Regions from separate parts of the Homo sapiens genome. Here region 2 is linked to region 1. The links come from fine-mapping of genetic effects on gene expression. A gene starts in region 1. The other region holds a variant in brackets. All regions are shown on one strand. Distances are from middle to middle. Region 1 holds the start of JAK3 (Janus kinase 3). Region 2 overlaps JAK3 (Janus kinase 3).

Region 1 (14,641 bases):
ATCCGCCTGCCTCCACCTCCCAAAGTGTTGGGATTACAGGCGTAAGCCACCGCGCCCGGCCCAATGATTTTCTTATTCCAGTACAACTTGGCTCCCTTCACCTCCTTTGTGCCGTTAATGTCAAATATGTTACCTTTCTCTATATTGTAGACCCAACAATACAATTAATATATAGTTTGTTGTTGTTGTTGTTGTTGTTTTGAGATGGAGTTTAGCTCTGTCGCCCAGGCTGGAGTGCAGCAGCGTGATCTCAGCTCACTGCAACCTCTGCCTCCCAGGTTCAAGCGATTCTCCTGCCTCAGCCTCCCGAGTAACTGGGACTACAGGCGTGCACCACCACGCCTGGCTAATTTTTTGTATTTTTAGTAGAGATAGGGTTTTACTGGGTTGGCCAGGCTGGTCTCAGATTCCTGACCTCAGGTGACCCACCCGCCTCGGCCTCCCAAAGTGCTGGGATTACAGGCATGAGCCACCGCACCCAGCCTGTTTTTTTGTTTGTTTTTTGTTTTTTTGAGACAGAGTCTCGCTCTGTCACCCAGGCTAGATTGCAGTGGCATGATCTCGGCTCACTGCAACCTCCACCTCCCAGGTTCGAGCAATTCTCCTGCTTCAGCCTCCTGAGTAGCTGAGATTACAGGCGTGCACCACCACACCCGGCTAATGTTTTGTATTTTTAGTAGAGAGGGGGTTTCACCATGTTGGCCAGACTGGTCTCGAACTCCCAACCTCAGGTGATATGCCCACCTCAGCCTCCCAAAGTGCTGGGATTGCAGGCATGAGCCACCGGGCCCGGCCAATATATAGTTTTGTACAATTGCTTTTTAAATATGTTAAGAGGCAAAGAGAGAAGAAATTTGCATTTATGCTACATTTTATTTTTATTTATTTATTTTGAGACAGGGTCTCACTCCATTACCCAGGCTGGAGGGCAGTGGTGCAATCTTGGCTCATTGCAACCTCTGCCTCCCAGGTTCAAATGATTCTCCTGCCTCAGCCTCCCAAGTAGCTGAAATTGCAGATGTGCGGCACCATGCCTGGCTAATTTTTTTTTTAATTTTTAGTAGAGACAAGAGTTTCGCCATGTTGGCTATGGCTGGTCTTGAACTCCTGACCTCAAGTGGTCTGCCCGTCATGGCCTCCGAACATGCTGGGATAACAGGCATGAGCCACTGTCACTGGCAGATCTTATTTTTATTTATTTATTATTATTATTTTTTGAGACGGAGTCTCACTCTGTCACCCAGGCTGGAGTGCAGTGGCGTGATCTCAGTTCACTGCAATCTCCGCCTCCCGGGTTCATGCCATTCTCCTGCCTCAGCCCCCTCGAGTAGCTGGGACTACAGGTGCCCGCCACCATGCCCGGCTAATTTTTTGTATTTTTAGTAGAGATGGGGTTTCACCATGTTAGCCACGATGGTCTCAATCTCCTGACCTCGTGATCTGCCTGCCTCGGCCTCCCAAAGTGCTGGGATCATGGGCGTGAGCCATTGTGCCCAGCCTTATTTTTTTGATACAGGATCTCACTCTGTTGCCCAGGCTGGAGTGCAGTGGCGAGATCTCTGTTCACTGCAGCCTCGAACTCCCAGGTTCAAGAGATTCTCCCACCTCAGACCTCCCGAGTAGTTAGGACGGATGCCATGAAACCCAGCTAAGTTTTATATTTTTTTCCTTAAACTCCTGACCTCGTGATCCACCCGCCTCGGCCTCCCAAAGTGCTGGGATTACAGGTGTGAGCCACCGTGCCCGGCCAAGTTTTGTATTTTTTGTAGAGACAAGGTCTCTCTGTGTTGCCCAGGCTGGTCTTGAACTCCTAGGCTCAATTGATCTGCCCACCTCAGCCTCCTGAAGTGTTGGGATTACAGGCGTGAGCCAAAGCACCCGGCCTTATGCAATCTTTTAAAATTACATACATTACCTTTATATGTGTTCTTCAGATTTTCACGTGGATTGGAATACATGTCTGGGGTCCCTTGTTTTCAGCCTAAAGAATTTATTTTGGGTGGGTACGGTGGCTCTCGCCTGTAATCCCAGCACCTTGCGAGGCCCAGGTGGGTGGATCACCTGAGGTCAGGAGCTCGAGACCAGCCTGGCCAACATGGTGAAACCCCGCTTCTATTAAAAAATACAAAAATTAGCTGGGTATTGTGGCGGGTGCCTGTAGTCCCAGCTACTTGAGAGGCTGAGGCATGAGAATCGCTTGAGCCTGGGAGTCGGAGGTTGCAGTGAGCCGAGATTGTGCCACTGTACTCCAGCCTGGGCAACAGAGTGAGACTCTGTCTCGAAAAAATATACATTTTTTTAGTATTTCTTGTGAGGTGGGCAAATTAACTTTTGCACTAAAATCTTTAGCCCAACTGTAGCACAGGTGGTTAGTTACCCAGTCCCTTCCTGGTGGACACTTAGACTGTGAAAATTCGGAAAACTGATGGGCGTGATGCGGGGCAGGGAGGCCAGGGGAGCAGGTCAGCCCTCCTCTGGCTGGGCTTTTCGGGGCAGGACGTCAGGTGAGAGGCGGCTCTATCCCAACAGCGCTGCCGCGAGTGTCCACCAGGTGGCAGCAGAACCATGTCCCATCTGCGGTGGCCCAGCTGAGGCCAAGCGCTAGACCGTTGAATGATACACAACCAGGTTCAAATCTTACCGATGGTTCGCTGGCCGCGTTGCCGCTCTGGGCCTCAGTTTCCCCTTCCACAAAATGAGGCCAATAATAGTCGCCAGCTTTTAGGGTTGTTGTGAGATTTAAATGGCGTATGATTGTTTGGACTGGGAAGGTTGAGGCCCTGCCCTTCCCTCTGTGCTGGAACTCACCGCTCTGGCCTCAGTTTCCCCAAAGTGCTGAGCGGCTACAAGCAGGTGGAAAGAGATGCTGGAAAGGGCAGAGCGCAGCCTGGAGCACAAATTGGATCCTGGGACAGCAGGAACGGGGCAGGAAAAGGAATTTAGGGAGGACAGGGGAGGAGGAAGAAGACGAGAGGGAGATCCCTGAGACCCAGCCCTGGCCTTGGGGCCTCGTGCTTCTGCCTTCAAGGCCTGGGTTGGAGTGGAGGGAGGGGCATGCCAGGGTGGGGAAGGGCACGGGTCGTGATGTGCTGTTTGTTTCAAAGCTTTATTATTTTTCTTTAGTTTCTTTTTTTTTTTGAGATGGAGTCTCACTCTGTTCCCCAGGCTGGAATGCAATGGCGTGATCTCATCTCACCGTAGCCTCTGCCTCCCAGGTTCAAGCGATTCTCCTGCCTCACCCTCCAGAGTAGCTGGGATTACAGGCACCCATCATCATGCCTGGCTAATTTTTGTAGAGACAGGGTTTCTTGTTTCCTTTTTTTTTTTTTTTTTGAGACGGAGTCTCACTCCATTGCCAAGGCTGGAATGCAGTGGCACAATCTCAGCTCACTGCAGCCTCTGCCTCCTGGGTTCAAGCCATCCTCTCCTGCCTCAGCCTCCTGAGTAGCTGGGATTACAGGCATCTGCCTCCACGCCCGGCTAATTTTTGTAATTTTAGTAGAGACGGGGTTTCACCATGTTGGACAGGCTGGTCTTGAACTCCTGACCTCAGATAATCCACCCACCTCAGCCTCCCAAAATGCTGGGATTACAGGCGTGAGCCACCGCGCCCGGCCCAGAGCTTTATTATTTTTCTTTTTGGTTGGGCACAGTGGCTCATATCTGTAACCCCAGCACTTTGGGAGGCTGAAGCGGGCAGGTCACTTGAGGTCAGGAGTCGAGACCAGCCTGGCCAACATGGTGAAACCCCGTCTCTACCAAAAATACAAAAATTAGCTGGGTGCAGTGACACACACCTGTAATCCCAGCTACTCGGGAGGCTGAGGCACGAGAATCACTTGAACCCTAGAGGCAGAGGTTGCAGTGAACCAAGATCATGCCGCTGCACTCCAGCCTGGGCAACAGAGTGAAACTGTCTTAATTTAAAAGAAAAAAAAAAGCTTTATTATTTTTCTTTCTTTTACATGTTGTCGGTGCCTGAGTGATGCCGTGGCCCCGGCTTCCTAGTGACACACCTGGCCTGGCAGGATTCCTCTGCCCCCACCTCGGGCCATGCAGGAATCTGACCTGAGCAGGCTGGTCCTGGGCTACTCTGTGTCTCTGTTATCACCATCCAGTGGGGCCCAGGCGAGGAGTTCCTGGTTAGCAGGGCTGTCCAAGGGCACCCCTGTCCCCCCTGTCTTTTTCCCAGGGACTTTGAAGGCACCAGTTTGTTCATCCAGGATCCTGGGCCAAGCCACAGCTTGGATCACGGAGCGTTCACAATGCTGATGTGCCTCATCCTTCCCACTCTTTCCCTCATCTCAGTTACTGGCACCAGTGCCTTCCCAAGGCTGGGCCCAAGACACCCAAATCTTGGTTTCTGACCGTTGGTCCTCAAAACACTGCAAAGCCACCCACTTGTATGCACTCCGGACTCCAGGTCCCTGGCCTTCTTTTTTTTTTTTTTTTTTTTTTGAGATGTAGCCTCTTTCCTGTCACGCAACCTTGAGTGCAATGCAGTGGCGCGATCTCAGCTCACTGCAACCTCCACCTCCCGAGTTCAAGCGATTCTCCTTCCTCAGCCTCCAGAGTAGCTGAGATTACAGGCGTGCGCCACCACACCCAGCTAATTTTTGTATTTTTAGCAGAGACGGGGTTTTACCATGTTGGCCAGGCTGGTCTTGAACTCCTGACCTGAGGTGATCCACCCACCTTGGCCTCCCGAAGTGCTAAGATTACAGGCATGAGCCACTGCACCCGGCCTTTTTTTTTTTTTTTTTTTTTTTTGAGACAGAGTTTTGCTCTTGTTGCCTAGGCTGGAGTGCAATGGTGTGATCTCGGCTTACCGCAGCCTCCACCTCCTGGGTTCAAGCGATTCTCCCACCTCAGCCTCCCAAGTAGCTGGAATTACAGGCATGCACCACCACATCCAGCTAATTTTGTTTTGTCAGTGGAGATGGGGTTTCTCCACGTTGATCAGGCTGGCCTCAAACTCCTGACCTGGGACTACAGGTGTGCACCACCATGCCCAGCTAATTTTTGTGTTTTTTTTGGTAGAGGTGGTGTTTCGCCACATTGCCCAGGCTGGTCTCAAACACAAGTTGTTTGTCAGAGACCAGCCTGCAATTCTCCCAGGGTGCTGGGATTACAGGCGTGAGCTACCATGCCCAGCCTAGGGGCCTCTTTTATAAGGGCATTAATCCCATTCATGAGAGCTCAACCCTCATGATCTAATCACCTCTTAAAAGGTTCCGATTCTGAATACCACCGCCTTCGAGGTTAGGATTTCAATGTATTAATTTTGGGGAGACGCAAACTCTCAGACCATCACAGTATTTTATCTTTTTCAGTGCTGCTGCAAAGGAAATTTTTCAAAATTTTTTTATGTTCCAATTGTTTGCTGCTGGTGTATAAAAATTCAATTGACTTTTGTATTGAATTCAACGGACTTTTTAAACCTGGTAACTTGCTGAATTTATGTATTAATTTCAGTAGTTGTCTTATAGATTCCCTTGGGTTTTTGACATAAACAATCATATCATCAGCAAATAGCAACAGTTTTATTTACCTTTTTTTTATTACTTATTTTATTCTGTTTTGCTTGTTACAGAATCTTGCTATGTTGCCTTTAAATTCTTGGGCTCCCATTTCAGCTTCTCCAGTAGCTGAGGCTACAAGCATGTATCACCATGCCCAGCCACACCTGACTTGTTTATTTTTCTCATATATTTTTTTGTTTTAAGACAGGATCTCGCTCTGTTGCCCAGACTGGAGTGTAATGGTGTGATGATGGCTTACTGCAGCCTTGTCCTCCCTGACTCAAGCAATCCTCAGCCTCCCAAATAGCTGGGACAACAGGTGTGAGCTATCACACCCTGCCAATTTTTAATTTTTTTTTTTTTTTTGAGACAGAGTCTCCCTCTGTCACCTAGGCTGGAGTGCAGTGGCGCGATCTTGGCTCACTGCAACCTTCACCTCCCGGGTTCAAGCGATTCTCCTGCCTCAGCCTCCTGAGTAGCTGGGATTACAGGCGCGCATCACCACGCACGGCTAATTTTTGTATTTTTACCATGCCTGGCTAATTTTTGTATTTTTAGTAGAGATGGGGTTTCACCATGTTGATCAGGCTGGTCTTGAACTCCTGACCTTGTGATTCTCCCACCTCAGCCTCCCAAAGTGCTGGGATTACAGGCGTGAGCCACCATGCCCAGCTTTTCTTTTCTTTCTTTCTTTTTTTTTTTTTTTAGACGGAGTCTCACTCTGTCACCCAGGCTGGAGTGCAGTGGCCCGATCTTGGCTCACTGCAAGCTCCGCCTCCCTGGTTCACACCATTCTCCTGCCTCAGCCTGCTTTTTCTTTTCTTATTACAGTGGCTAACATCACCAGAACAATGTTGAATAGAGGTGGTGAAAATGGACATCCTTGTCTTGTTTCCAATCTCAGGAGGAAGTTATTCAGTCTTTTACCATTTTTGTTTTTGTTTTTGAGATGTAGTCTCGCTCTGTCGCCCAGGCTGGAGTACAGTGGCACTATCTTGGCTCCCTGCAACCTCTGCCTCCTGGACTCAAGCCATCCTCCCACTTCAGTCTTCCAAGTAGCTGAGACTACAGGTGCACACCACCATGCCTGGCTAATTTTTGTATGTTTTGTAGAGACGGATCTCACCATGTTGCCCAGGCTAATCTCCAACTCCTGAGCTCAAATGATCCTCCCATGTTGACTTCCCAAAGTGCTCAGATTACAGGCATGAGCCACCGTGCCTGGCCCTGCCTCACTGTACTCTTAATTTTCATTTGGCAAGTGAAGCTGAGGAAATTTTTCTGGGTTTAAGAGCTATTTGTCCTCCATTTTCTCTGACTTCTGGATTCATATCCACCTAACTGGTTGGCATTTTCTTACTGCTTTCTAGATGTTACTTATATAACGAGGATATTTTATCCATGAGTTCAATTTTGTTTCCAGTTACACTTTGATTGTATTTTATTCTTTGATTGTATTTATGGACTTCTTGTCAGCAGAAAAATCTGGGTGTTTGCATCACTGACGTGCCCCATTTTTCTCGGGCAAGTTCTGGGTTCTGTCCCCAGAACTTCCTTTTTTTAAAAAAAATTATTTATTTATTTATTTATTTTTTGATACGGAGTCTTGCTGTGTCGCCCAGGCTGGAGTGCAGTTGTGCGATCTCGGCTCACTGCAACCTCCGCCTCCCAGGTTCAAGTGATTCTCTTGCCTCAGCCTCCTGAGTAGCTGGGACTGCAGGCGCCCGCCACCACACCCAGCTGCGTTTTGTATTTTTAGTAGAGATGGGGTTTCACCAGGTTGGCAAGGCCGGTCTCGAACTCCTAACCTCAGGCGATCCGCCCGCCTCGGCCTCCCAAAGTGCTGGGATTATAGGCGTGAGCCACCGCGCCCGGCCAGAACTTCCTTTTAGAGCCTTCACATGCCCTTCTCTGGGGCTGAAGGTACCACTTTGGTCCTCACCCCAATCTCCTCTTACTTATTCTCAAAATATTGCAGAAACCATCACACTGGAGGTAGCAGAGACCCAGAAACTCACTGTACTTCCGGAAAGCAGAGGCTTCAGCCTCAGGCCAAGGATGAGAACATAAGGTTGCATTCCCGTCTGCTGAAGCCACCCAGGAAGTGAAAGAAAACACTACAACTAAGCTTCTGCTTGGCACTTCCTGCCGCAGGTCAGCTGTGGCTCCACTAAGCTCCACTAAGCTGAGGACATAATCTATATCTCTTTCCCTTGACCCACGCGGCCCTACCCACGCCATCAAATGAGTCTCAGCCCCCCGTGTCCCTGACATCCTGCTCTTCTCAGGAACACTGTGAATTCGTGAAGCCTCCAGGCCTTTGCCTGGGCTGTTCTGCCTGCCAGAACTGCCCACACTCCCACATTCTCAGGTCACTCTCTGGCTAGTCCCACTTGTTGTTGGATTTCAGAATCAAAGCCACCTCCTCCAGGAAGCCCTCCCAGATCCAGTCATCTCTCTTAGCAGACCGGTCCCAGGGGCAACTGATATAATTATTGGGCAATAGCTTGTTTATTGCCATCTCCCCTGCTGGACTGTCAGCTCCCCTGGACAGGGATTGGGTCTGCATTGTCCCCGATTCCCTGCACACAGGCTGTGTCCAATAAGCCTCTGGCTGATTGAACAGTTAAGATCAACAAAATACTTACCAAACCATTTTGTGTTAAGACTTGTGATGGTGATACAGAGATGAAAAGTCTTTTTTTTTTTTTTTTTGAGACGGGATCTCACTCCCATTGCCCAGGCTGGAGTGCAGTGGCATGACCACAGCTAACTGCAGCCTCAACTTCCTGGGCTCAGGTGATCCTCCCACCTCAGCCTCCCCTAGTAGCTGGGACTACAGGCACATGCCACCACATCCAGCTTATTATTTTGTTGTTGTTGTATTTTTTGTAGAGACAGGGTTTCACCATGTTGCCCAGGCTGGTCTCGAACACCTGGGCTCAAGCCATCCTCCTGCCTGAGCCTCCCAAAGTGCTGAGATTACAGGTGTGAGCCACTGTTCTTGGCCACAACTTCTTAAATCTATTCCTTTTTTTTTTTTTGAGACAGAGTATTGCTCCGTCGCCCAGGCTGGAGTGCGGTGGCACAATCTCAGCTCACTACAACCTCCGCCTGCCTCCTGGGTTCCAGTGATTCTCCTGCCTCAGCCTCCCAAGTAGCTGGGATTACAGGCACATGCCACCACGCCCAGCTAATTTTTATATTTTTAGTAGAGATGGGGTTTCACCATGTTGGCCAGGCTGGTCTCGAACTCCTAGGCTCAAGCAATCTTCCCACCTGGGCCTTCCAAAGTGCTGGAATTACAGATGTGAGCCACTGTACCCGGTCACCACTTCGTCAGTCTATTCCTGAAGCTCTACTTCCGGGGCTCTGATCCTATTATCCTAAGAACACTGGCCCAAGTCTCTGCATTTGGATGCTGCCCGGGCCTTCTGCCTCTTCTATTTATAACAGCTCCTACTTCCAACTCTCCTGTGGCTCCAGATTATGCTCCAGGCAAAACCCACCCTTCTCCCAAAGACCCTGATCCCCCTGTCCCCCCACGATCTTGCCCCTGTTGACCGCCCTGCAGTCCCCTTCCCCCTCATCTCACCCCTGCCCCTGGCCTCCTGACTGCTCTTCAAGCTGCTAAGATCACTGCCCTCTCAAGGTCTTTGCCCATCCTGTGCCCTCCTCCTGGAGCACCCTTTCCCTGGCCAGCTCCCTGTCCTGCCTCGGGTCCAAGTTCCAGTCTGTGCCTGTCCTGACACCCTGGCTTTCTTTGTTGTCTGCGATGATTTGGCTCCTTCATTTGCTCATTGTCTCAGCGCCAGATCACAAGTTCCAAGAGGCCAGGCCGGATCCACCTGGTTTTTTAGGGCTGGGCCCAGGGCACCACAGGCAGAAATGGGTCATTATCTCTCCCTGAGTCTTTTCTTTTTTTTTTAAACGAAGTCCCGCTCTGTTGCCAGGCTGGAGTGCAGTGGCGCCATCTCGTCTCACTGTAACATCCGCCTCCTAGATTCAAGCAATCCTCCCACCTCAGCCTCCTGAGTAGCTAGGATTACAGGCATCACCAGGCCTGGCTAATTTTCCTGTTTTTAGTAGAGACAGGGTTTCATCATGTTGGCCAGGCTGGTCTCAAACTCCTGACTTCAAGTGATCCGCCCGCCTCAGCCTCCCAAAGTGCTGCGATTACAGGCCACCACGCCTGGCTAATTTTTGTATTTTTAGTAGAGACGGAGTTTCGCCATGTTGGCTAGGCTGGTCTCAAACTCCTGACCTCAAGTAATCGCCCGCCTCAGTCTCCCAAAGTGCTGGGATGACAGGCGTGAGCCACTGCGCCCAGCGTCTCCCTGAGTCTTAAGGGAGAAATACCTCAAAGAAGAACTTGACCTTCCTCTGGGGCAACTTCCCTGCTTCCCTCCTGGGCAAATCCAGCCAGGTTTCCTTCCCTGGGTGCAAAATTAGTTCCACTGGGTGCCCAACTCACACATGCTACAGATGGGTAAACTGAGGCAATAAGGGCCGGGCCAGAGCCCCACTTAACAAGTGGGTCTAGAGTCGGCTGAGCCCCTGGTGTGACCCAGACCCTTCTCTGTGCTATCATCAGTTCCTTTGGCTTAGGGGTCTCCAGCAGCCTGTCTGAACGGGGCGGCTGATGCAGAGGCTTCCGGAACTTTCTGCCCCTCCTTGCCCGCCTCCCCGCCCCCAGCTCCCGCAGGGCCCTGACTTTCGGTAAATGACAGTGGCTCAGGAAACCAAGGGGCCCACACAGGAAGGAGCCGAGTGGGACTTTCCTCTCGCTGCCTCCCGGCTCTGCCCGCCCTTCGAAAGTCCAGGGTCCCTGCCCGCTAGGTAAGAGCTGGCGATGCCGCAGGGCTCGGCCCAGACACTGGGGGAGGATGGTGGTGGCGGGGGATGGCTGGGCTGGGGCAGGGTGCTGCCAGGGCAAAGGCTAGCTCGCCTTCCAGGCCTCGGAGGAAAGCTGCGAGGCAGACGTGAGCCGAGACTCGCATCCTCCGATCGCTCGCTTCTCTGGGCTTCGGCTTTGACTAAGGCCGGGAGATGCCTGCCTTGCGGACCTGGAGGAGTCATTGCGCATGCGCGACGGGGGCTGCGGGGTTGGGGGTGGGGAGGAGGGATTGGGAAGGAGGGATTGGGGGGCGGAGTTCCCAGCCCCTACCCTCCAGGCCTTCCCGGTCCAGACACAGGGTACCCGACCATACCAGGATGCAGAACGTTGAGGATTATAAACAGGGGATGCCGAGGCGGGAGGATAGCTTGAGGCCAGGAGTTCAAGGCCAGCCTGGGCAACATAGCCAGACCTCCATTTCTACAAACATTTTTAAAAAACCAAAAAAACTATGGCGTTTTCTGGGACCAAACATCACCTCTGACTTTTCATTTTTTTTTGTTACAGTATTACAGAATAATAATATTCTGTTAAGATTTTTTTGTTGTTTTGGAGATGGGAGTCTTGCTATGTTGTTCAGGCAGGTCTCTAACCCCTGGCCTCAAGCTATCCTGCTGCCTCAGCCCCCTGAGTAGCTGGGATTGCAGTGGGGCGCCACTGCCACTGAAGCCTTATTTTAAACTCGACTGGGGCTGGGCACAGTGGCTCATGCCTTTAATCCCAACACTTTGGGAGGCTGAGGCCAGCGGATCACTGGAGGTCAGGAGTTCGAGATCAGCCTGGTCAACATGGTGAAACCCTATCTCTACTAAAAACACAAAAATTAGCCAGGTTTGGTGGCGGGTGCCTGTAATTCCAGCTACTCAGGAGGCTGAGGCAGGAGAATCGCTTGAACCTGGGAGGTGGAGTTTGCAGTGAGCCGAGATCATGCCACTGCACTCCAGCCTGGGAGACAGAACAAGAATCCGTCCTCCCCCCTACAAAATAAATAAATAAATAAAAAGGCTGGGCAATGTGGCTCACGTGTGTAATCACAGCACTTTGGGAGGCCAAGGCAGGCGAATCACCTGAGGCCAGGAGTTTGAGACCAGCCTGGCCAACATGGTGAAACTCCGTCTCTACTAAAAATACAAAAATTAGCTGGGCGCTGTGGTGCGCGCCTGTAATCCCAGCCACTTGGGAAGCTGAGGCATGAGAATCGCTTGAACCCAGGAGGCAGAGGCTACAGTGAGCCAAGATCGTGCGACTGCACTCCAGCCTGGGTGACAGTGCGAGACTCCGTCTCAAAAAAACAAACAAACAAACCAAAAAACTTGATTGGCTGATGTTGAGGGGACGATAGAGAGGCTATGGTGTGTGATTTTATTTCTATAAAGGGCAAAACTAGACATCAATCTCTCTGTGGGAGAGATGGGGCTCCTCCAAGGTTCCCGGGACTAGGAATGTGCTCATTCTTGGTCTGGGCATCGGTGACATCAAAGTGTCCCTTTGGTAAGGTTCTTTCCCCCACAAGACTTCCCTTCCCACAGTAACCACCACACCGCTGTGCCAATTGCCCTTCCTGTTTGGTTTAACAGGCGTTTGTTGATCGCTTACCGGCACATCATCAAGAAATATACAAATTAATGCACATTAATTGAGTTGACACTTTAGGCCTGGATTGCGCTCAGCAGACCACCTCAATGAGGATGCTGGGGAGTCAGCCCATTTCACAGCTGCGAAAGCTGAGTCCTAGGGGTCCTAGTCCTCTGATTGTCTTAAACCTCATTAGGCCAGGCGCAGTTTCTCACGCCGGTAATCCCAGCACTTTGGGAGTCCGAGGCAGGAGGATCACTCGAGGTCAGGAGTTCCAGACCAGCCTCGCCAACATGGTGAAACCCCGTCTCTACCAAAAATACAAAAATTAGCCGGGCATGGTGGCGTGCCCCTGTAATCCCAGCTACTTGGGAGGCTGAGGCAGGAGAATCACTTGAACCCAGGATGCAGAGTAAGCCGAGATTGTGCCACTGCACTCCAGCCTGGATGACAGAGCTAGACTCTGTCTCAAAACAAAAACAAAAAAACCCTCATTAATGCCGCCCCACCCCAGCCACAGGGCATTATTTTGGATCATAGTTTTTGTATTGTGTTTTTTTTCTAGAGATAAGGTCTTGCTCTGTCGCCCAGGCTGGAGTGCAGTGGTGTGATCATAGCTCAATGCAGCCTCAACTTGCAGAGCTGAAGGCATCCTCCTGTCTCAGCCTCCCAAGTAGCTAGGACTATGGGGGTGTGCCACCATGCCCTGCTAATTTTTTAGAGATGAGGTCTCAAAATCCTAGCCTCAAGTGATCCACCTGCCTCGGCCTGTCAAAGTGCTGGGATTACAAGGCTTTTTTTTCTTTTTGAGAGGAGGTCTCACTATATTGCCCAGTCTGGTTTCAAACTCCTGGTCTCGGCCAGGCGCGGTGGCTCACACATGTAATCCAGCATTTTGGGAGGCTGAGGCAGGCTGATCACTTGAGGCCAGGAGTTTGAGATCAGTGAAACCCCATCTCTACTAAAAATACAAGAAAATTAGCTGGGCGTGGTGGTGCCCACCTGTAATCCCAGCTACTGGGGTGGCTGAGGCACGAGAATCTCTTGAACTTGGGAGGCGGAGGTTGCAGTGAGCTGAGATTGCGCCACTGCACTCCAGCCTGGGTGACAGCGCGAGACTCTGTCTCAAAAAAGCAAAAAACATAAAACAAACTCCTGGTCTCAAGCTATCCTTCCTTCTTGGCCTCCGGAAATGATGGGATTACAGACATGAGCCACTGCGCCCTGCTGGAACTTAGGTTTTTGTTTGTTTTTCCCAACACTTTCTTCAGATCTTCTTCATTCAGGTCAATTTGAGTGACCTCCTTTTTCTCCCCAATTTTTCTCAGGGGACTCGAAGCCCCACCCCTGGCCCCACCCAGCTGAGGGCCCTGAGTGCTGAGGTTTCTCAGGGCAAGTGAGCGAGCGGGTGGGAGGTGTTGGGGGCTGGAAGCAGGGGGCCAGTTTCCTCCTGGGCCCATCCCAGGGAGGCTTTCCTTCTTTCTTTCTTTCTTTCTTTCTTTTTTTTTTTTTTTTTGAGACAGAGTCTGACTCTGTTGTCCAGGCTGGAGTGCAGTGGTACAATCTTGGCTCACTGCAACCTCTGCCTCCCAGGTTCAAGTGATTGTCCTGCCTCAGCCTCCCGAGTTGCTGGGATTACAGGAACGCACCACCACACCCGGCTAAGTTTTGCACTTTTTAGAGGCAGGGTTTCGCCATGTTGGCCAGGCAGGTCTCAAACTCCTGACCTCAAGTGATCCTCCCGCCTCGGCCTCCCAAAATGCTGTGATTACAGGCATAAGCCACCGCACCCGGCCTCCAGCACTCCTTTCCATGCCCTCCCTGCTCAGAAGTCCAATCCCCTCTGACCAGGACTGAGGGGCTTTTTCTCTCTGTGCCCCAGGCAAGTTGCACTCATGGCACCTCCAAGTGAAGAGACGCCCCTGATCCCTCAGCGTTCATGCAGCCTCTTGTCCACGGAGGCTGGTGCCCTGCATGTGCTGCTGCCCGCTCGGGGCCCCGGGCCCCCCCAGCGCCTATCTTTCTCCTTTGGGGACCACTTGGCTGAGGACCTGTGCGTGCAGGCTGCCAAGGCCAGCGGTGAGTGCATCCCTAGTGGATCGGGCCAGAGGGAAGGATGGGGCTGTGTGGGGCCAAGATTGGAAGCTGGAATAGTTGCCTGCAGAAGTCAGCATCGGAGCTGGGGCTTTGGGGGATGAGTAGGAGTTTTGTAATGGAGAAGGGTGTGCAGGGTTGGCTTCTGAGGCAGAGGGAATGGCCTGTGCAGACGGAGAGGTGTGACGGCACATGAAGGGAACAGCTGGTCATACCTTGAGGTATGGAAGGATCTGGACGGTTGGGTATGATGCTGGCACTCCTGAAGGGCACAGATGGGGTGACTCAGGAGGGAGCTGATGGGACCATCCCCTGTAGGCATCCTGCCTGTGTACCACTCCCTCTTTGCTCTGGCCACGGAGGACCTGTCCTGCTGGTTCCCCCCGAGCCACATCTTCTCCGTGGAGGATGCCAGCACCCAAGTCCTGCTGTACAGGATTCGGTAGGAAGTGCCCCCCAGCCCCCAGGGATTGTACAATTTTATCATCTCCTTGCATTTCGAGGTGCCCACACCCCTGCCCCAGGGAGGTATGGTCACTACCCATTTCTCAGA
Region 2 (10,291 bases), 25 kb after region 1:
CCTGCCGGATTATCCTGGGATCCTCTCTGCACGCTCACACCGCCCGCCCGCAGGGCATGGAGTACCTGGGCTCCCGCCGCTGCGTGCACCGCGACCTGGCCGCCCGAAACATCCTCGTGGAGAGCGAGGCACACGTCAAGATCGCTGACTTCGGCCTAGCTAAGCTGCTGCCGCTTGACAAAGACTACTACGTGGTCCGCGAGCCAGGCCAGAGCCCCATTTTCTGGTGGGGAACCCGCGCCTAGGCTCCGCCCCTATTCCCCACGGCTCTGGCTCCGCCCCCAGCCATGCCCCCGCCCCCTCCCGCTGCTTTGCTCCCCAGCCTTAGCCCCGCCCTTCCTCCGCTGCAGCTTTGGCCCCTCCCACTCCCCAGAGCCCCGCCCCCTCAACAGCACTGGCTCCTCTGTCTCCCGCTGCCCTGCTGTCAGCGGCCCCCAGCCTTAGCCCCGCCCTTCTCTCAGCTCTCGCCCCGCCCAAGCTTCAGAACCCCACCCCTCCAACACGCTGGCTCCGCCCCTCAGGGCTGGCCCCCTCTTAGTTCCGCCCTTCCCCCCGCCCAGTTCTGGCCCCTCCCCCTCCCACGGCTCTGGCCCCGCCCCCATCTCCGCCCCTCCGTGCTGCCCCCGCCTCCTCCCCACAGCCTTAGCTCTTCCCAGGCACCTCCCAGGGCTGGAGAATCCACCTATCCCACAGCCAGGGAAACCGAGACCCTGGAGACGGGACTGACCTGCTCACAGTCCCCACCTACCCTGACCAGTTCCCCATTCCAAGGCTGCCCCCCTCTTCCTGTCCTTTCTACACCCTCGCATCTCAAGACCTTGTCCCCTCTCCAGGTATGCCCCCGAATCCCTCTCGGACAACATCTTCTCTCGCCAGTCAGACGTCTGGAGCTTCGGGGTCGTCCTGTACGAGCTCTTCACCTACTGCGACAAAAGCTGCAGCCCCTCGGCCGTGAGTCGGCTTCCCAGAGCCCCCAGCCTTCTTCTCCCTCCACGCCCCTCGTGGCCAATCTCCAACCTGTCTGCGCCTGCGTCCCTCTTTAGCATGGGGTCACCTGGTCCCAGCATCATAGGCCCCAGTGGGGAGGACGCTTCCTCACCTTTCTGACCCCTTCACGGTTCAGGCAGCCCCTCCCCGCTCCATCACAGATGGCCCCTACCCCCACCACGGGTGGCCCCTCCCCCTCCACCCACGGAGGCTCCTCCCCCACCACATGCGCTCCTCCTTGGCTCCAGGAGTTCCTGCGGATGATGGGATGTGAGCGGGATGTCCCCGCCCTCTGCCGCCTCTTGGAACTGCTGGAGGAGGGCCAGAGGCTGCCGGCGCCTCCTGCCTGCCCTGCTGAGGTGAGCGCCGCAGGGCTAGCCTCAGTTTCCCAGTCTGTAGATTGGGCCGGGGTCTCGGGCAAGCCAGCTGGCGCCTGAGTCTCTGTACTGAGAAGAAAGGCTAGAGTGTGAGGCCGATGAGGATCCTGGCCCCCACTTGGCTACTCTCTCACTGTGTGGCAAGTCAGAGCACTTTCAGAGCCTCAGTTTACCCTTTTCCAAAATGAGAATAGTAATGCCTTATAGGGTGAGGGAAGATTAGACTCCTGAACACCTGTGCCTATGAGGGCTCAGCTCAAAGCCGAGCACACAGTCGATGCTCCATAAATGGTGGTGACGTTCATGGTTTTTTTTTTTCTTTCTTTCTTTCTTTTTTATAGATGGGGGCTCACTCTGTTGCCCAGGCTGGGGTGCAATTATAGCTCACTGCAGCCTCCAACTCCTGAGCTCAAGTGATTCCCCTAGTTCAGTGTCTCTAGTAGCAGGAGCTACAGGTGTACACCACCACACTTGGCTAATTTAAAAATAATTTTTTAGAGATGGGAGCCTCACTATATTGCCCAGGCTGGTCTTGAACTCGTGGGCTCAAGCGATTCTCCTGCCTCAGCCTCCCAAAGTGCTGGGACTATAGGTGTACATCACCATGCCTGGCTAATTTAAAAATAATTTTGGCCAGGTGTGGTGGCTCACACCTGTAAACCCAGCACTTTTGAAGGCTGAGGCGGTCAGATCACCGGAGGTCAGGAGTTCGAGACTAGCCTGGCCAACATGGTGACACCCTGTCTCTACTAAAAATACAAAAATTACCCATGTGTGGGTGCCTGTGATCTCAGCTACTTGCGAGGCTGAGGCAGGAGAATTGCTTGAACCTGGGAGGGGAAGGTTTCAGTGAGCCAAGATCATGCCACTGCACTCCAGCCTGGGCGACAGAGCAAGATTCCATCTCAAAATAAATAAATAAATAAATAAACAAACAAATAAGATAAAAATAATTTTTTTAAGAGACAAGGTCTCGCTATGTTGCCCAGGCTGGTCTTGAACTCCTGGGCTCAAGCGATCCTCCTGCCTTGGCCTCCCAAAGTGCTGAGATTTACAGGCATAAGCCACTGTGCCTGGCTAATTTTAAAAAATTTTTTTAAAGAGATGGGGTCTCTCTGTGTTGCCTAGGCTGGTCTTGAGCTCGTGGGGTCAAGTGATCCTCCTGCCTCGGCCTCCCAAAGTGCTGGGATTACAGACGTGAGCCACCACATCCCACCCTCTCATGGTTTATAATCATATAATCATAACCTTTGTGGAAGTGTCTGACATGCAGTTGGTCATTGATAAATTAATTTGCTCAGGCCAAAAACATTTATTGAGTGCCAACTGTGTGCCAGGACTTGTTGGGTGCTGAAGACCCTGTCCTCCCAGTAACTAGCAAAATCTGATAAGAACATTCTAGGCTGGGCACGATGGCTCATGCCTATAATCCCAACACTTTGGGAGGCTGAGGCAGAAGGATCACTGGAGCCCAGGAGTTCAAGACCAGCCTGGGCAACGTAGTGAGACCTTGTCTCTACAAACAATACAAGCAATAGCCGGTGTGGTGACATGCACCTGTGGTTTCAGCTACTAGGGAGGCTGAGGCAGGAGGATCACTGGAACCCAGGAGTTCAAGACCAGCCTGGGCAACATAGTGAGACCTTGTCTCTACAAACAATACAAGCAATAGCCGGTGTGGTGACATGCACCTGTGGTTTCAGCTACCAGGGAGGCTGAGGCAGGAGGATTGCTTGAGCCCAGGAGGTTAAGGCTGCAGTGAGCCATTATTGTACCACTGCACTCCAGCCTGGACAACAGAGTGACACCCTGTCTCAAAACAAAACAAAACAAAACAAAACAAAACAAAACAAAACAAAACAAAGACAAAATTATGGTAGTGATAAGTGCCTTGAAAGAGATGAACAGAGGGAAATGGTGGGGTGGGGGTGGTCAAAGAGGGCCTCTTACGGGGCCGACGCTGGAAGGAGGAGGAGCCTACCCATGAGTAAAGCTAGGAGAAGAAATTTCCAGTGGAGGACACGGAAGGGAAAAAGGCCTTGGGGAGGTAATGAGCTGGGTGCCTTTAAGCACCAGTGCGATGGAGGCAGATGTGACTGCCCGGAACAAATGAGGGAAGGAGGGATGGAGATGAGCGAAGGAGGGCATCAGGGAGAGGTGGTGTTTTTTTGTTGTTTTTTTTTTTTTGAGACGTGGTTTTGCTCTTGTTGGCCAGGCTGGAGTGCAATGGCGCAATCTCGGCTCACCACAACTTCCGCCTCCCAGGTTCAAGCAATTCTCCTGCCTTAGACTCCCGAGTAGCTGGGATTACAGGCACACGCCACCTGTAATTTTTTTTTTTTTTTTTTTTTTTTTTTTTTTTTTTTTTTTTTAGTTAAGATGGGGTTTCTCCATGTTGGTCAGGGT[A/G]GTCTCGAAAGGAGAAGTGTGTTGTAAAATCCATAAGGGCTGGGCGCGGTGGCTCACACCTGTAATCCCAGCCCTTTAGGAGGCCGAGGTGGGTGGATTACATGAGGTCAGGAGTTCAAGACCAGCCTGACCAACATGGTGAAACCCCGTCTCTACTAAAAATACAGACTTAGCCAGGTGTGGCGGTGTGTGCATGTAATCCCAGCTACTTGGGAGGCTGAGGCAGGAGAATCGCTTGAACCCAGGAGGCAGGGTTTGCAGTGAGCCGAGATCGCACCACTGCATTCCAGCCTGGGCAACAAGAGCGAAACTTTATCTCAAATAAATAAATAAGTAAGATCCATAGGGAGCCATGGGAGTTTTTGGAGCAGAGATGGGATGGAATTTAATTTGTGTTTTAAAACTGAATGAGTGCGGTGGCTCATGCCTATAATCCCAGCACTTTGGGAGGCCAAGACAGGTGGATCACCTGAGATCAGGAATTTGAGACCAACCTGGCCAACATGGTGAAACCCTGTCTCTACTCAAAATACAAAATTAGCCAGGCGTGGTGGCACGTGCCTATAATCCCAGCTACTCAGGAGGCTGAGGCAGGATAATTGCTTGAACCCGGGAGGCGGAGGTTGCAGTGAGCCGAGATCATGCCATTGCACTCCAGCCTGGACAACAGAGCTAGACTCCGTCTCAAAAAAACAAAAACAAATACGCTGAATGGGAGTTGTGTCCTTTGGACTGCTCAGGCACGACCCCATTATCTGTCCCCCGCCCCTCAGGTTCACGAGCTCATGAAGCTGTGCTGGGCCCCTAGCCCACAGGACCGGCCATCATTCAGCGCCCTGGGCCCCCAGCTGGACATGCTGTGGAGCGGAAGCCGGGGGTGTGAGACTCATGCCTTCACTGCTCACCCAGAGGGCAAACACCACTCCCTGTCCTTTTCATAGCTCCTGCCCGCAGACCTCTGGATTAGGTCTCTGTTGACTGGCTGTGTGACCTTAGGCCCGGAGCTGCCCCTCTCTGGGCCTCAGAGGCCTTATGAGGGTCCTCTACTTCAGGAACACCCCCATGACATTGCATTTGGGGGGGCTCCCGTGGCCTGTAGAATAGCCTGTGGCCTTTGCAATTTGTTAAGGTTCAAGACAGATGGGCATATGTGTCAGTGGGGCTCTCTGAGTCCTGGCCCAAAGAAGCAAGGAACCAAATTTAAGACTCTCGCATCTTCCCAACCCCTTAAGCCCTGGCCCCCTGAGTTTCCTTTTCTGTCTCTCTCTTTTTATTTTTTTTATTTTTATTTTTATTTTTGAGACAGAGCCTCGCTCTGTTACCCAGGGTGGAGTGCAGTGGTGCGATCTCGGCTCAGTGCAACCTCTGCTTCCCAGGTTCAAGCGATTCTCCTGCCTCAGCCTCCCGAGTAGCTGGGATTACAGGTGTGCACCACCACACCCGGCTAATTTTTTTTATTTTTAATAGAGATGAGGTTTCACCATGATGGCCAGGCTGATCTCGAACTCCTAACCTCAAGTGATCCTCCCACCTCAGCCTCCCAAAGTGTTGGAATAATAGGCATGAGCCACTGCACCCAGGCTTTTTTTTTTTTAAATTTATTATTATTATTTTTAAGAGACAGGATCTTGCTACGTTGCCCAGGCTGGTCTTGAACTCCTGGGCTACAGTGATCCTCCTGCCTTATCCTCCTAAATAGCTGGGACTACAGCACCTAGTTTTGAGTTTCCTGTCTTATTTCCAATGGGGACATTCATGTAGCTTTTTTTTTTTTTTTTTTTTTGAGACGGAGTCTCGCTCTGTCGCCCAGGCTGGAGTACAGTGGCGCAATCTAGGCTCACTGCAAGCTCCGCCTCCTGGGTTCACACCATTCTCTCGCCTCAGCCTCCCAAGTAGCTGGGACTACAGGCGCCCGCCACCACACCCGGCTAATTTTTTGTATTTTTAGTAGAGACGGGGTTTCACCTTGTTAGCCAGGATGGTTTCCATCTCCTGACCTCGTGATCTGCCCGTCTCGGCCTCCCAAAGTGCTGGGATTACAGGCATGAGCCACTGCGCCCGGCCCTCATGTAGCTTTAAATGTATGATCTGACTTCTGCTCCCCGATCTCTGTTTCTCTGGAGGAAGCCAAGGACAAGAGCAGTTGCTGTGGCTGGGACTCTGCCTTTTAGGGGAGCCCGTGTATCTCTTTGGGATCCTGAAAGGGGGCAGGAAAGGCTGGGGTCCCAGTCCACCCTAATGGTATCTGAGTGTCCTAGGGCTTCAGTTTTCCCACCTGTCCAATGGGACCCTTTCTGTCCTCACCCTACAAGGGGCACAAAGGGATGACACCAAACCTGGCAGGAACTTTTCACGCAATCAAGGGAAGGAAAGGCATTCCTGGCAGAGGGAACAGCATGCCAAGCGTGAGAAGGCTCAGAGTAAGGAGGTTAAGAGCCCAAGTATTGGAGCCTACAGTTTTGCCCCTTCCATGCAGTGTGACAGTGGGCAAGTTCCTTTCCCTCTCTGGGTCTCAGTTCTGTCCCCTGCAAAATGGTCAGAGCTTACCCCTTGGCTGTGCAGGGTCAACTTTCTGACTGGTGAGAGGGATTCTCATGCAGGTTAAGCTTCTGCTGCTCCTCCTCACCTGCAAAGCTTTTCTGCCACTTTTGCCTCCTTGGAAAACTCTTATCCATCTCTCAAAACTCCAGCTACCACATCCTTGCAGCCTTCCCTCATATACCCCCACTACTACTGTAGCCCTGTCCTTCCCTCCAGCCCCACTCTGGCCCTGGGGCTGGGGAAGTGTCTGTGTCCAGCTGTCTCCCCTGACCTCAGGGTTCCTTGGGGGCTGGGCTGAGGCCTCAGTACAGAGGGGGCTCTGGAAATGTTTGTTGACTGAATAAAGGAATTCAGTGGAAAAGATTTTGTGCTGGACTTGGGGCGATGGGGAGCCTCAGAGGGTGTGTGAGCTGGGAGGGATGCGGTTAGAGCTGTGGGCCAGAGACCTCTCAGGGAGCCACTGTGGGGGCCCCAGGGCAGGCTGGTGGAGGAGGACCACTGGGTGGGGCTTGGCTGGGGCCCTCAAGGACAGAGCCCCCTCACTCCCAGCCCCAGCTGCTGGCCTTGGCTGCAGCCTGGGGGAGCTGATTACAGGCTCTCTGTGGGTGGGGAAGGAACAGGATGCTCTCCCGGTGGTCAGAGGACAAGGCCAGGTTGGGGGAGCGAGGCTGTGGGGAGGGGACCAGCATCACTGGGGCCGGACCACCTCCCCACCGACCGGCCCCCGTCATGTGCACCTCATAACTGCTAGAAAGATGTGGAGAGTGGCCAGGCTCAGTGGCTCACGTCTGTAATCCCAGCACTTTAAGAGGCCAAGGCAGGAGGATCACTTGAGGTCAGGAGTATGAGATCAGCCTGGCCAACATGGCGAAACCGTCTCTATTAAAAATACAAAAATTAGCCTGGTGTTCTGGCACATGCCTGTAATCCCAGCTACTCAGGAGGCTGAGACAGAAGAATTGCTTGAAACTGGGATGTGGAGGTTGCAGTGAGCTGAGATCATGCCATTGCACTCCAGCCTGGGCGACAGAGCGACTCCGTTTCAAAAAAAAGAAAAATGCGGACAGAGACAGACATACAGAAGGAAACTGAGAGATGAAGGCCGAGAGAGACTCAGAGAGAGAGAGAGAGAGAGATCCCTGTCCCTGCTCTCTTAGCCCCAGAGGGCCCCCTAATTTGGTAGAAATAGGGAGGGAGCTGCTCTGGGGTCAAGCAAGACTCGAGTTCCAGCCCAGGTTCTCTCCTGCCTAGGGTCAAGCATCCTTCCCTCTCTCAACCTCAGATTCCCTCCTTGGAAAAACAAAGCTATAAGACCCCCTAGGCATGAAGCGGGGGCCAAGCATCCACTGAACAAATAAATCCTGCTCTATTCTGGGTCCACCAGCCCCTGCTCACCCAGAGGGGACAACCGTGTTGGGGAGACAGAGCTTCGGATGGGACACCCCCAGCCCTGCGTGTCAGGCGCCTTGAGAAGACCTGGGCTCTGCTCAGCCTCCTGTGACCTTGGGCAAGTTTGGGGTCCTTTCTCTGTGCCTCAGTTTTCTTTTTTTCTTTTCTTTTCTTTCTTTTTGTCTGGTGAGGGGACGGAGTCTCTGTCCCCAGGCTGGTGTGCAGCGGCACCATCTCGGCTCACTGCAATCTCCACCTCCTGGGTTCAAGTGATTCTCCTGCCTCAGCCTCCCGAGTAGCTGGGATTATAGGCATGCACCACCACATCTGGCTAATTTTTGTATTTTTAGTAGAGACAGAGTTTCACCATATTGGGCAGGCTGGTCTCGAACTCTTGACCTCAAGTGATCCACCTGCCCCATCTTCCCAAAGTGCTTGCATTACAGGCATGAGCCACTGCACCTGGCCTGTGTGCCTCAGTTTTCTCATTTGTACAGTAATAGAAACAACAAAATTCTGAACATTTCTGGTCTTGGAAGATGCCCGCTGTCTTCCCCCCTGCCCCCCAGAAAAGGCAGGATTATTACTTTTCAGTTGATCTATTTCATCTCTTTAAACTGGTTAAGACAATAGCGAAGACTTGGCCGTGTGTGGTGCCTCACACCTGTAATCCCAGCATTTTGGAAGGCCGAGTAGGGAGAACCACTTGAGTTCTAGATGAGCCTGGGCAACATAGCAAGACCCCTGCCTCTACAATTAAAAAATTAAAAATGGCCGGGCGCGTTGGTGCACGCCTGTAATCCCAGCACTTTGGGAGGCCGAGGCGGGTGGATCACTTGAGGTCAGGAGTTTGAGATCAGCCTGGCCAACATGGTGAAACCCCGTCTCTGCTAAAAAATACAAAAATTAGCCAGGCTTGGTGGTGGGCACCTGTAATCCCAGCTACTCAGGAGGCTGAGGCAGGAGAATCGCTTGAACCCAGGAAGCAAAGGTTGCAGTGAGTCGAGATCGCACCACTGTACTCCAGCCTGGGTGACAGAGTAAGACTCTGTCTAAAAAGATAAAAATAAAAATTAAAAAATTAAAAATTAGCTGGGCATTGTATTGCAGGCCTGTAGTCCCAGCTACTCAGGAGGCAGAGGCTGAAGGATCGCTTGAGCCCAGGGGAATGAGGTTACAGTGAGCTATGATCCTGCCATTACAGGCCAACCCAGAGAGATCCTATGTCAAAAATGAATAAATACCCTGGTGTGGTCGCTCTCGCCTGTGATCCCAGGACTTTGGGAGGCTGAGGCGGGAAGATGACTTGAGTCCAGGAGTTTGAGACCAGCCTGGGCAACATGGCAAAACCCCATCTCTACAAAAAAAATACAAAAAATTAGCCGGGTGTGGTGGCGTGGGCCTGTAGTCCCAGCTACTCAGGAGGCTGAGGTGGGAGAATTGCTTGAGTCAGGGATAGGGAGGTGGCAGTGAGCCCATATCGTGCCACTGCACTCCAGCCAGGGTAACAGAGCAAGAACTCATCTCAAAAATAAAAAATAAAAATAGGTGGCTGGGCGTGGTGGCTTACACCTGTAATCCCAGCTACTTGGGAGGCTGAGGTGGGAGAATCACTTGAACCCAGGAGGTGGAGGTTGCAGTGAGCCGAGATCGCATCACTGCACTCCAGCCTGGAAGACAGAGCAAGACTTTGTCTCAATAATAATAATAAAAATAATAATAGTCCAGGCACAGCTCATGCCTGTAATCCCAGCATTTTGGGAGGCCGAGGCAGATGGATCGCTTGAGGTCAGGAGTTGGAGACCAGCCTGGCCAACATGGCGAACCCCAGTCTCTACTAAAAATAAAAAATAAAAAAAAAAAAATTAGCCAGGCATAGTGGTGCGCACCTGTAATCCCAGCTACTCAGGAGGCTGAGGCAGGAGAATCGCTTGAACCCGGGTGTCAGAAGTTGCAGTGAGCCGAGATCAAGTCACTGCACTCCAACCTGGGTGACAGAGTGAGACTCCATCTCAAAAAAAAAGAAGAAAAAAATAAAAAAGAAAGACTCGTTGCCCAGTGCTCCCTCTGGGAGAAGTACATCCAAGGCCCTGGCCCTGGGAGAAAGGCTCTGGCACTAACCCCACCCTTGACCTTTTTCCTGGGCGGTCCTGAAGAATGTTCTGTCCCTTCTCCAAGGCCCCCAGCTGGGACGGCCCAGGCGCCTATAAAGGGGGTCCCCGCTTGGCCCCGGCGCCACCCACCACCATGGACCCCCGTCTGCCCGCCTGGGCGCTGGTGCTGCTGGGCCCTGCCCTGGTGTTCGCGTTGGGCCCCGCGCCCACCCCAGAGATGCGTGAGAAGTTGTGCGGCCACCACTTCGTACGCGCGCTAGTGCGCGTGTGCGGGGGCCCCCGCTGGTCCACCGAAGCCAGGAGGCCTGCGACCGGAGGCGACCGTGAGTGGGGACGGGCAGGGACAGCGCTCTGGGAAGCCGAGGTGGGGCAGGTGCACGTAGGCGCAGATGCACACGTGCAGGGAGGTGGGCAGGTTTGCATGCATGTGCCCAGGGCTCACCTGCCGGCTGCGTGCACAGATCGTGGGTCCGCACT

Evidence for each region. PIP is the estimated chance that this variant, and not a neighbour inherited with it, causes the effect.
Region 2: its variant is fine-mapped to the expression of JAK3 in whole blood (INTERVAL, PIP above 0.99).

What each region holds. Positions count from the first base shown.
Region 1 is chr19:17,843,666-17,858,306 of GRCh38, reverse strand. JAK3 (Janus kinase 3) reads left to right here and starts at 10,325. Exons shown (of 24, transcript NM_000215.4): 1 at 10,325-10,361; 2 at 13,877-14,073; 3 at 14,407-14,530. The coding sequence starts at 13,890.
Region 2 is chr19:17,821,163-17,831,453 of GRCh38, reverse strand. It overlaps JAK3 (Janus kinase 3), which reads left to right. Exons shown (of 24, transcript NM_000215.4): 21 at 54-226; 22 at 834-951; 23 at 1,236-1,346; 24 at 4,544-6,672. The coding sequence ends at 4,711. It overlaps INSL3 (insulin like 3), which reads left to right and starts at 9,935. Exons shown (of 2, transcript NM_005543.4): 1 at 9,935-10,137. The coding sequence starts at 9,948. RefSeq lists an enhancer at 1-400 and a silencer at 372-421. The variant A/G (reference allele first, on the strand shown) is at 3,771.